2 separate regions of the Homo sapiens genome follow, and region 1 is linked to region 2. The links come from fine-mapping of genetic effects on gene expression. A gene starts in region 2. The other region holds a variant in brackets. All regions are shown on one strand. Distances are between the middles of the regions. Region 1 overlaps PHF24 (PHD finger protein 24). Region 2 holds the start of PIGO (phosphatidylinositol glycan anchor biosynthesis class O).

Region 1 (5,370 bases), 120 kb after region 2:
ATCTCAGTGCAAAACCCCAGGCCTGGCTGCTTCAGATGCAGTTCTTAGGCCCAGGAGTCCTGCGCTTTCTTGTTTTGACTAGACTGAATAATGGCCCCTCCTATGGATCAATCCTGGGGGACGGCTGAAGAGCATTTCTAAAAGCTGTGGGCCATACACCTGAGCCCAGATTTGTCTCCTGTCTGCTTCATTTCAGTCCCAAATAATCCAACCCCAGCAGCTCACCACCCTGCTTCCAGCTAAGGTGGTTCCTACAGGAGGAGACTACACAGGGCTCTCAAGAAGCCCCTGGCCGCAGCTCCTTGCTTTCCTCGAAACATTCAGCACCGAGCGGTGTGTGTTCTTCTGTACGCACCCGATTTAGCACAAGGGCCTCGAGCAATGAAGACGTGTTTGCTTCTGCATGACTGCACTCCACTCCCTTTTGAATAACTCTTGGTAGTCAGATCTCGCTATGCCTAAGTCATTAAGTTGGAAACAGAAGCCTAGAACATGGACCCCACGGCCGGCCAAGATGAGCCATAACACACGGACTGAAGAATTTGAATTTGATGAGTACTTAGGAAGGAGGGCTGGGGCTTGGAGGCCAGGCTTGGTGCTCTTGTGGCAGCCTCTGATTGCCCCAAAAGGCCTTCCATGCCAGGCCCAAGCCCTAGCCTGCTGGGGAAGGACATGTGATGAGCAGTGAGGAGAAGCAGCCACTCAAGCCGAGTCTCAGTGATAGGGAGAAGCGGAAAACTTCTTCTGTAAGGCTTTCCCAGGACCTTCTCTGCAGAGCCTCTTCTTAAGCCCCAGCCTCTTATCCTGTTTGTCAGGATGGCTGAAAGAGTCCCTGCTCAGGGCTCTGCAGATCTTTCTTGGGCTGTGGAAGGTGTCTACAGTTGAGTTGAGCTGGAATGATGAGGAAGCAGAGCCCCGTTCTCTCCTCTTCCTCCAGAGTGTGCTCTCGTCAGTCTCTGTGGTCGGTGACTTGGGTGAAGCATCTAACACAGAGGGCTGTGGCTCCTGCCAGTGTGTTTGCTCCATTCAGGCCCCCTTGGCCCTAGGCCATGAGCTACCATCTGAAAAATGGGGCCAAGAAGGCTCACCTTGATTTTTGACTACCCTGCTAAAGACTTTTGGACTCAGGTGACCTGACTGAGAGGTTCCTAGAATCCCGAGTCCCTGGGAAGGGCTGCCTCCCCCTCTTCCAGTCAGGATTCTCCAGGCTAGTTGCCTTTTCTGTCACCAGGAATTGGAATTTAAATAAATAAAGGGCTGAATTTCAGTGGTGATGTTTAACTCTTTTCCCAACTCAGTACAGCCGAGGTACATAATGCACACCTACTAGTAACAGCAGCTGACTGCAGAAGGGATTTTTGGTGGAGAAAGCGGGGCCCATTAGGATCTCCAGGAGCTCTAGGCAGGCATGCGAGTCTGACATGCCCCCTTCCTAAGAATCACTTGGCCAGAGACTTATCTATTGGAAATTAGAACTGGCCTGCCTATAGAAGGGGTGAGTAGAGACCCCCTCCTCTATACCAGGGGCTTCACAAAGGGACTTTGGTCCTTTCTCAACCAAAAAGAACCAGGCTTCTGAAGGCATGGACAGCTGGGCAGCATGTGCACATGTATATAAGTGTGGTGGCAGGTCCCGTCTATGATGTGGGGCAGGGGCGGTCCAGGAGAGGATGCTGCCACAGCTCCCAGGGCTTCTCCTTGTGGCAATGCATTCACTGCCTCTATTGTGAGGGGAATGGTGATTTCAGTGCCTTAAAGCTTAGTGACAAGTTAAGACGCTGGCAGTGTCCCAACCCCATGAGTCTCTGTGCCAGAGGTTGGTGGGGGAAGGGAGAAAGGAAAGGAGGGAGAGGATGTCACTGTCCTCAAACCGAGCTTCTCTGCTCCATGCTATCCTGGGGGCTTCAGGTGAATGGCTGCGCTGTTGGGGCGAGCAGCCAGGATGTAGAGGACATTCTCTTGCAGGAAGGTAGGCCAGTCCACAAATCTGGAGTGGAAGCAAAGAACAGAGTCGTGAGGCTGGTTTGAAGACACGTGAGCCCTGATCCCAGGGGCAGCATGGCTTGAGGAGGCTGGTTTGAAGACGCGTGAGCCCTGATCCCAGGGGCAGCATGGCTTGAGCTACACAAAACTCAGGGAAGCTTGGCTCATGCCTGACCTGGCTATGGCTGGCTGTGCTACCAGGCCAACAGACCAGCTGGCTGGTCCTATAGACTTGGGTCAAATGTGCACTCTTGGA[G/A]CCTGGTTTCTTGGGTGGGCGCTTGCTGTTTTGGAGTGGGAGTGGGTAATGCCCTCTCTTACTTGTGTGTTTTGTGGGGGTTCAGAGGGTACAAATGGCCAGGTGAGGAGGTCCTACTCACCTGGACTCCTGCTCTGTGGGCAGCAGGGTCTTGTCCTGACTCTTGCTGCTGCTGCTGGCTGGGCTGCTATCTGCGATGGGACCCACATGGCTGATGCTGCTGGGCATGAGGACACGTGGTTAGGAGTGGGATAGTGAAATGCCTGCCCCCTCCCAAACTCTGGTAAGCCCAAGGCTCTGGACATGCTCATCCAGGCTCTTCTGACATGTGGCAACACCGAGTTGAAGGCAGAGGCTGTCCTATGCCCTGGCCCGTAGGCATCACCATCCTCTACCTAATGCACAGGAGGCTCCTCTCTCGGCTGTTGGCAGGGGGAGCAGGGAGGTATGGAAGGGCCACTGGCATGGAAAAGGGAGGAGGAGAGGCTGAGTGGGGACCAGGACTGGTAAGGAGCAGACCTGACACTGCAGGAAGGAGCCTCTGGGAACCGTTTGCAAAACCAAGAGTGCTGGGCCCGGCGGCACTCTGCCTCACTGACGGTGCTCCCACTGCCCCGAGCCAGGAAGGCGGCTCGGGCTCGCTCCCGCTCCTTCACTGTCAGAAGCCTCAACAGAGAGTTCTGGGGAAGAAGAGACAAGATCTTAGAGGTGAAGATATCTTGTAAACTGCCAAGCCATAGAGAATCCTATCTCCATTACCACCTTTGCAACCTCCCTTAGAAGCTGCCCAGAGCCCTTCTGGAGGCATCAGCACTTCCAGTGCGGCCCAGGGCAGATCAGTCTTCCTCACGCAGTTTCCTCAGCCTGGGCACCAGATCATCTGTCACTGGATGGAACCTGAGCCCATTCCTGATACTTGTCCCTGCTTGAGCAGGACCCAGTGCTCCCCCAATCTGCCCAGCGTGCCTCCCAGGCCCTTGTCACCCAGTATCCCAGGAACATTTGCCCCAACTGGCCCTCACCTGGGGACGCAACTGCTGCAGAAGCAGGAGGGACTCATGGGACAAGAAGTCAGGCCACTCTATGTGGCCTCGATGTTCAGGGTCCAGGGCAGCAAACTGGCGGGCCGCCTGCTCTTCTTGCTCCTCACTCAGGGCCCTGTCACGGTCCCCCCGCTTGGCTGCTTGGTGGCGGTAACGCAGAAAGTCCTCCAGTGTCAGGGAGCAATCTGTGGGAGGCACCCCGTGCTAGCCATGCCCATCCTTCCTCAGCCTCAGGGCACCTCCATCACCTCCAGGGCACCCTCGGGGCCCCCAAACCCACAGCTCTTGCTAAGTCTCTGCCTCCCATGGCCAGGGTCACCCAGGCTGTGACAGGGATAGGTGACTCTGCTGGCCAACAACTCAGGAACAAGGACTCATTTACCCTCTACCCACTAAATATGGAACACTCCTTTCATGGTTCATTCTAGAAAGCCTGAAGGAGAAATCTGCCCGGCCCCTCTCCATCCATGCAGCACCACCCAACCTTACCAGGGATGACTTTACACCGCTGAAAGGTCTCCGTGAGGCTATACATTTCCTCCTCAGTAAGCAGCAAGTTGATGTTGTCCTGAAAATAAGGAAGAGCTGAGTCGGTGGCCATACAGGCCAGTAAGAAAGGCCAGGGTCAAGGGGGCTAGAAATAGAATTTCAACTGGAAAGCAGTTCCAAGATCATCTAATCCCAGCCTCCTATTCACAATCAATGAGATTGAGGCCCCAGAGAGGAGAAAGGACTTGGCCAGAGTTGTCTTTACTCTGGGGCAGAATCTTCCCCAAGAACCCAGATATCCTGACTCCAGCACTGAGTCCCTTTACTAAAACAGTGGTTTTCTCCTCTGAGCTAACCTAGGGATTTCTTGGAAGTGCCTTAGGAAGCTGCTGCAGGGAATAAGGGGGCTAGTGAGTAGGCAGGTTGTGAATCCCTATCTCCATCAAGCAGAGCGGCTCCATCTCCATCCCTTTTATCTACTTGGCTTCTGTGTTAGGCTGTGCTAAAAATGTATTTTAGTTAAAAAAAAAAAAAGTTTAATCCTAGCTCTGCTCCAAGTGGGTTGTATCACTTTAAATAACCCCAGAATGGTTTTAAAAGATGCCATTATTACAAGGCTCCTAAAGCCAAATGAGTTTTTTTGTAGTGCCACAGAAGTTTTAATTCCAAAGGAGCACCAATATCTTATTGTGTTGACGTTACCATACAGTCTTTAAACTATCAAAGATCCTTTCTAGTACAAGGTCATTTTCTTCCTCTGAGATACCCGCAAAGTACAAGAGCAGATATTTCATGAGTATTCATACGTGGATTTCATAAAGAACTCAAACCATTCTTTTTCTTCCATAACACTTTTTAAAAACTAATATATAATAGTTGTATTTTTCTTTCAAACCATACTTTCAATAAACACCTACTGAGCACCTAGTAAACACTGGGCGCCACAGTGGTGTGTAACACTGTGAGATGTTCAGTGTGGCTGAGGTTTGGAGTACATGTGAGTGTGTGTGTGAGGGAAGGAGGGGGCCTACTATGAAGTACCTCCAATACCCTTTATCGAGCCCCTCAAATTAGGCCTTTATTCTGAGGGCAAAAGGGAGCCACCAAAGGGTTTTCAAGTGGGGAGTGCCGTGGTCAGATCTCTGGCTGCTGTGTGGAAGATGGATTAGAGCGGCAGAGTCTGGAGGTGTGGAGAGCAGTTGGGGGCTGCCGCAACAGTCCAGGCAAGAAATGATGAGCAGCTAAACTGAGACATGAGAATGAAGAAGGGAAGAGAGATATTAGAGGCAGCATCATCAGGACCTGATGACTCACTGGATGTGAGGCATGAGGGAGAGATTGAACTGGAATTGGTAACTGGGGCATGGTATTACTATTCACAGAGATAAGGAGTGGAGGAAGAGCAGGTTTGGGGGCAAAGATGAGTTCATTTTGGGGCATGATGAGTGTGAAGTACTTGTGAGATATCAAGGTGGATAAGTGCAAGAGACAGGAAATTTAGGTCTGGACACACAGAAATAGGAGTCATTAGTGTTTAGATGGTGGCTGTAGATGAAGTCACCAAAGAGGGCGCAGTGAGAAAAGAAGAGTATTAAACAA
Region 2 (5,337 bases):
GGAGGCTGAGGTGTGCAGATCATGAGGTCAGGAGATTGAGACCATCCTGGCCAATATGGTGAAACCCCGTCTACTAAAAATACAAAAACTAGCTGGGCGTGGTAGCATGTGCGGGTAGTCCCAGTTGCTTGGGAGGCTGAGGCAGGAGAATTGCATGAACCTGGGAGGTGGAGGCTGCAGTGAGCCGTGATCACGCCATTGCACTCCAGCCTGGCAACAGTGAGACACTCTGTTAAAAAAAAAAAAAAAAGTGATAAATGCTGTGGTAGAGGAAAGTTCTGGCTGAGGGATCTTGGTGGGAAGAGCATATCAGCTTATGAGTAGCAGCGTTGCTGATTGCCACTGAACTCAGGCTGGAAAAGTTAGCAAGTTTTCACCAAGTCAGGTCCTGGACTAGAATAAACAAAGGCTCACTGCTTGAGAGAAGTTGGCTGAAGGGTATAGTGTTAAGGGGGATGTGACTACATGGCAAGGGCCAAGTCACAAGGAATGAGATTCTTGTTGAAGGGGTTGGACATTATCCCTAGGGTAATAGGGTTTTTTTGTTTGTTTGTTTGAGACAGCGTCTCCCTCTGTTGTCCAGGCTGGAGTGCAATGGCATGATCTCGGCTCACTGCAACCTCCGCCTCCCGGGTTCAAGCAATTCTCCTGCCTCAGCCTCCTTAGTAGCTGGGATTACAGGCATGCGCCACCATACCTGGCTAATTTTTTTGTTTTTTGTAGAGACAGGGTTTCACCATGTTGGTCAGGCTGATCTCGAACTCCAGACCTCGTGATCTGCCCGCCTGAGCCTCCCAAAGTGCTGGGATTACAGGCGTGAGCCACTGTGCCCGGCCTATGAAGGGTTTTTTTCCCTTCCCATGAAGAATTTTAAGATAAAACATCACATTGGCCAGGCACAGTGACTCATACCTGTGATCCCAGCACTTTGGGAGGCTGAGGTGGGAGGATCACTTGAGCCCAGGAGTTGACCAGCCTGGGCAACATGGTAAGACCCTATCTCTACAAAAAAGAAAAAAATAACAGTAATCACATTAATGTTTTAGTTAGAGCTGTCTTGCTGCAATGTGGAGAAGGGATAGTAGGGAGACACAGGAGGCTGGGAGGACAGTGAGAAGGCTGCCTCAGTGATCCTGGAGAAGGGATGAGGTCTGAACTGAGATAAGGGGCTATGGGGATGAAGGTGGAAGAATAACTCAACTTTTTTTAAAAATTAACATATTCCTTTATTCGTTTGGTCAGTATGTGAACCTCAAATATATGCTAGGTGCTGAGGATATCATGAAGAAAACAGAATTCCCTGACCTCAATGAGCTCACATTCTACTCGGAGGGGATAAACCATAAATACGTGTAGAATTTCAGATGCTGATGAGTTGTGCTATGGAAGAAATTAAGGAAGTGAGGGGAAATTTTTCCAGGGGGTGTGGTGGTGGGAGGTGCTGAACTAGTAAAGTAGGGGATTGCAGGAAGCCTTGCTGATGTTACAGTTGAGCTTCAATATGAAGGTGATGGAGATCCATTTCGGCATCGGGAACTGAAGCTGACAGAGGAGATGGCAAATGCAAAGGTCCTGAGGCAGAACTGCTGTGGATGGAACAGAGTTAGGGAAGCAAAGAAGTGGCAGCTAGATGAATCAGAAGGGGAAGAGGCAGATAGTGTGCAGGGCCATGTAGAGCCAATGCAAGAACTTTTACTCTGAGATGAGAAACCAGTGGACGGGTTTTGTTTCTTTTTGAGACAGAGTCTTGCTCTGTTGCCTAGGCTGGAGTGCAGTAGCACGATCTCAGCTCACTGTAGCCTCTGCCTCCTGGCTTCAAGCAATTGTCCAGTCTCAGCCTCCTCAGTAGCTGGGACTACAGGTACACATCGCCACGCCTGGCTAAATTTTGTAATTTTTAGTAGAGTTGGGGTTTCAGCATGTTGGCCAGGCTGGTCTCCAATTCCTGACTTCAACTGATTCTCCAGCCTCAGCCTCCCAAAGTGCTGGGCTTACAGGTGTGAGTCATCGTGCCTGGCATTTTTTTTTTTTTTTTTGAGAGGGAGTCTTGCTCTGTTGCCCAGGCTGGAGTGCAGTGGTGCAATCTCGGCTCACTGCAACCTCTGCCTCCTGGGTTCGAGTGATTCTCCTGCCTCAGCCTCCCAGGTATCTGGGATCACAGGCGCCCGCCACCACTCCCGGGTAACTTTTGTATTTTCAGTAGAGACGGCGTTTCGTCATATTGGCCGGGCTGGTCTTGAACTCCTGACCTTAGGTGATCCACCTGCCTTGACCTCCCAAAGTGCTGGGATTACAGGTGTGAACCACTGGGCCCAGCCTCCCCTCCTCCACTCCGAAGGATTATTTGCTTAATTATTCAGTCGTAAGATTTAGTTACAGGCTTTGAAAGGAGGAGTAATGAAATCTCAGTTGGACTCAGCTAAGCAAAAAAGGGAAAATAAGTATTATCTCCATTTTACAGATGAGGTAATGCCTAATGATGACAATATGTGCGGCCAAGCTAGGATTCAAGTCAAGTTTGACTCCAGCAGCCGTGCTCTTAGTCGTAACCATGAATGGACAGTGGTTCCCTGAACTCTTCCTCCAGCTTGGTCCCCTGTCCCCAATTTTCAATTACTAAATATCCCATCAAACTGGGGCCAGCCCCACGCTCCTGGCCAAACTTCCACCGAGGTGCCGGCAGATGGCGATGGAGCCACCGACGGGCCACTCTGTCTGGCGCACGCATCTCTGTGCTGCCAGGTCGCAGGCGCCGCCGCCGCCGCACTTCCGGGTGCCATTGCAGGTGAGCCAGGGTCTCCCGAGAACCTCACCCCCCGGTATTCCCCTCACCCTGAAGTAAGGGAGTCTCCCTCTTCCCCTCAGCTCCTAACCAAGGTGCTCAGTACCGCGGCTAGGGTGCCCAGCGGGAGGCTGGGTAGTTACCGGAGGAGGCAGAGCCGGTCGCACGCCTGGGTCCCAGCGGAGGCCCAGTCGACTCTCGACCCGGGCCCCAGCCTCCTTGCGTGGCGAAGGTCGTGCCTCAGGTCTCCTGGCGAACCTGGCCGCCCGGAAGCGGAGAGTGACTCCTCCCCTTCGTCCCCTCGGTGCCCGCCAGGCGGCGCCGTCGGCTGGGCCCGGATTCCCCTGCGGCTTCGATCCCTTTCCACTGGGTATTGAGATTGGCGAGGGGAGAGGCGCAGAAACGGCGTGTAAGAGAGCCTGACTACCAATTGGAATAAGTTTCCCTCCTGACTGTTCACATGTACAGGCAGCATTAGCATTTCCTGCCTGTACATGTGAACGTTCCTATGCTCTACCCCTCGAAGATCCTGATTCAGTAGATCTGGGGTGGGACCTCATGAAACGGCGTCTCCCTCTGTTGTCCAGACTCTAGTGCAGTGGTTCAATCTCGGCTCACTGCAACCTCCGCCTCCCCGATTCAAGCGATTCTCCTGCGTCAGCCTCCCCAGTAGCTGAGACTACAGGTGCCCGCCACCCATTTTTGTATTTTTAGTAGGGACGGGGTTTCGCCATTTTGGCCAGGCTGGTCTCGAACTCCTCACCTCAGGTGATCCGCCCGCCTCGGCCTCCCAAAGTGCTGGGATTACAGGCGTGAGCCACCATGCCCAGCCTGGAAATAGGAGGAGAGTAATATTGCGAGGGGTTGGCTGTGAAATGGTTTATCTCCAGGAAGGTTTCCGGGAGGAAGTGATTCTAGCTGGGCTTGTATTCAGGGACCAGAATATCCACTGGTTCTTTGCCCCACAGTAATGAATTTACTTCCCCACCCCTATCAGGATGCAGAAAGCCTCAGTGTTGCTCTTCCTGGCCTGGGTCTGCTTCCTCTTCTACGCTGGCATTGCCCTCTTCACCAGTGGCTTCCTGCTCACCCGTTTGGAGCTCACCAACCATAGCAGCTGCCAAGAGCCCCCAGGCCCTGGGTCCCTGCCATGGGGGAGCCAAGGGAAACCTGGGGCCTGCTGGATGGCTTCCCGATTTTCGCGGGTTGTGTTGGTGCTGATAGATGCTCTGCGATTTGACTTCGCCCAGCCCCAGCATTCACACGTGCCTAGAGAGCCTCCTGTCTCCCTACCCTTCCTGGGCAAACTAAGCTCCTTGCAGAGGATCCTGGAGATTCAGCCCCACCATGCCCGGCTCTACCGATCTCAGGTTGACCCTCCTACCACCACCATGCAGCGCCTCAAGGCCCTCACCACTGGCTCACTGCCTACCTTTATTGATGCTGGTAGTAACTTCGCCAGCCACGCCATAGTGGAAGACAATCTCATTAAGCAGCTCACCAGTGCAGGTCAGTGTGGGCCACTTTGAAGGCCAGAAGTACCTTGGCAAATTTCTTCAAAATTTGAAGTCAGGGAGTCAGACCTTTGGGTGCCCAGATGCACACTTGATTATGGTGTAGGGGGACAGAGGAGAAGAAAGAGGCCAGGGCCCTGCTGGTAGGGAGCTCAGTTTGGGGGACAGAGGAGAAGAAAGAGGCCAGGGCCCTGCTGGTAGGGAGCTCAGTTTGGGAGACAGAGGAGAAGGGATCTGGGCTTTGTTCCTATGAAGCTTCTAATCTGAATGGAGTGTAAGTTTTATTCTTGGAGACCTCTCAGTAAAAGGGAGAAGGGAAGAAGAGAAGATGTGGATCTTGGCTTGCAAGTGTGGAGAAGAAAGCAGAGAAATACAGGCCCTGTTCATTCACTGACTGGGAAGAAGCAGGATACACCCAGGAAAAACAACTCAGTAGAGATACCCAGAGACAGAACTAGGAGAGCATTTTGTAGGAAGGATAAGTGTGAGGTCTGGGTGGAGTACGGTTATCAGGGAAAGCTTCCTGGTGGAAAATGTTAGGCCCTGAAGGATAAGGATTGCTGTATGGAATTGCTGTACTTTAGGTTGCATGGTTGGGACTTCTGATGGGTCTTTAAAGGGCCTCTTTTCCTCTTTTCTCCTAACCCTGACGTTTGCTCAGGCTCTGACTTCTCTTTCATGTCCCTGCAGGAAGGCGTGTAGTCTTCATGGGAGATGATACCTGGAAAGACCTTTTCCCTGGTGCTTTCTCCAAAGCTTTCTTCTTCCCATCCTTCAATGTCAGAGACCTAGACACAGTGGACAATGGCATCCTGGAACACCTCTACCCCACCAGTGAGCATGGGGCCAGAGCACTTAGTTCTAAGACTGGGAGCTGGGGAGAACTGCTTTAGTCCACAAATTCTGAGCCACCTATGGGTGTAACAGCCTGGGCTTGTATCCCTGGACATAGAGGAGTGTCAAAGCCTGGCTGGGGTTGAGGAGTGGGTCTTAGTCTTCTGTGCTCAGTGTTCTCCCCTTCACAGTGGACAGTGGTGAATG

What was found.
Region 1: its variant is fine-mapped to the expression of PIGO in lung (TOPMed, PIP 0.98).

What each region holds. Positions count from the first base shown.
Region 1 is chr9:34,974,632-34,980,001 of GRCh38, reverse strand. It overlaps PHF24 (PHD finger protein 24), which reads right to left. Exons shown (of 8, transcript NM_015297.3): 4 at 3,772-3,850; 5 at 3,262-3,467; 6 at 2,759-2,919; 7 at 2,361-2,456; 8 at 1-1,987. The coding sequence ends at 1,891. Among named protein-coding and RNA genes, the nearest start is that of DNAJB5-DT, 12 kb to the left of the region's middle. The variant G/A (reference allele first, on the strand shown) is at 2,240.
Region 2 is chr9:35,094,009-35,099,345 of GRCh38, reverse strand. It overlaps PIGO (phosphatidylinositol glycan anchor biosynthesis class O), which reads left to right and starts at 2,755. Exons shown (of 11, transcript NM_032634.4): 1 at 2,755-3,191; 2 at 3,780-4,291; 3 at 4,987-5,130; 4 at 5,322-5,337. The coding sequence starts at 3,781. It overlaps PIGO-AS1 (PIGO antisense RNA 1), which reads right to left and starts at 3,042. Exons shown (of 2, transcript NR_186491.1): 1 at 2,926-3,042; 2 at 1,202-1,586. RefSeq lists an enhancer at 2,749-3,088.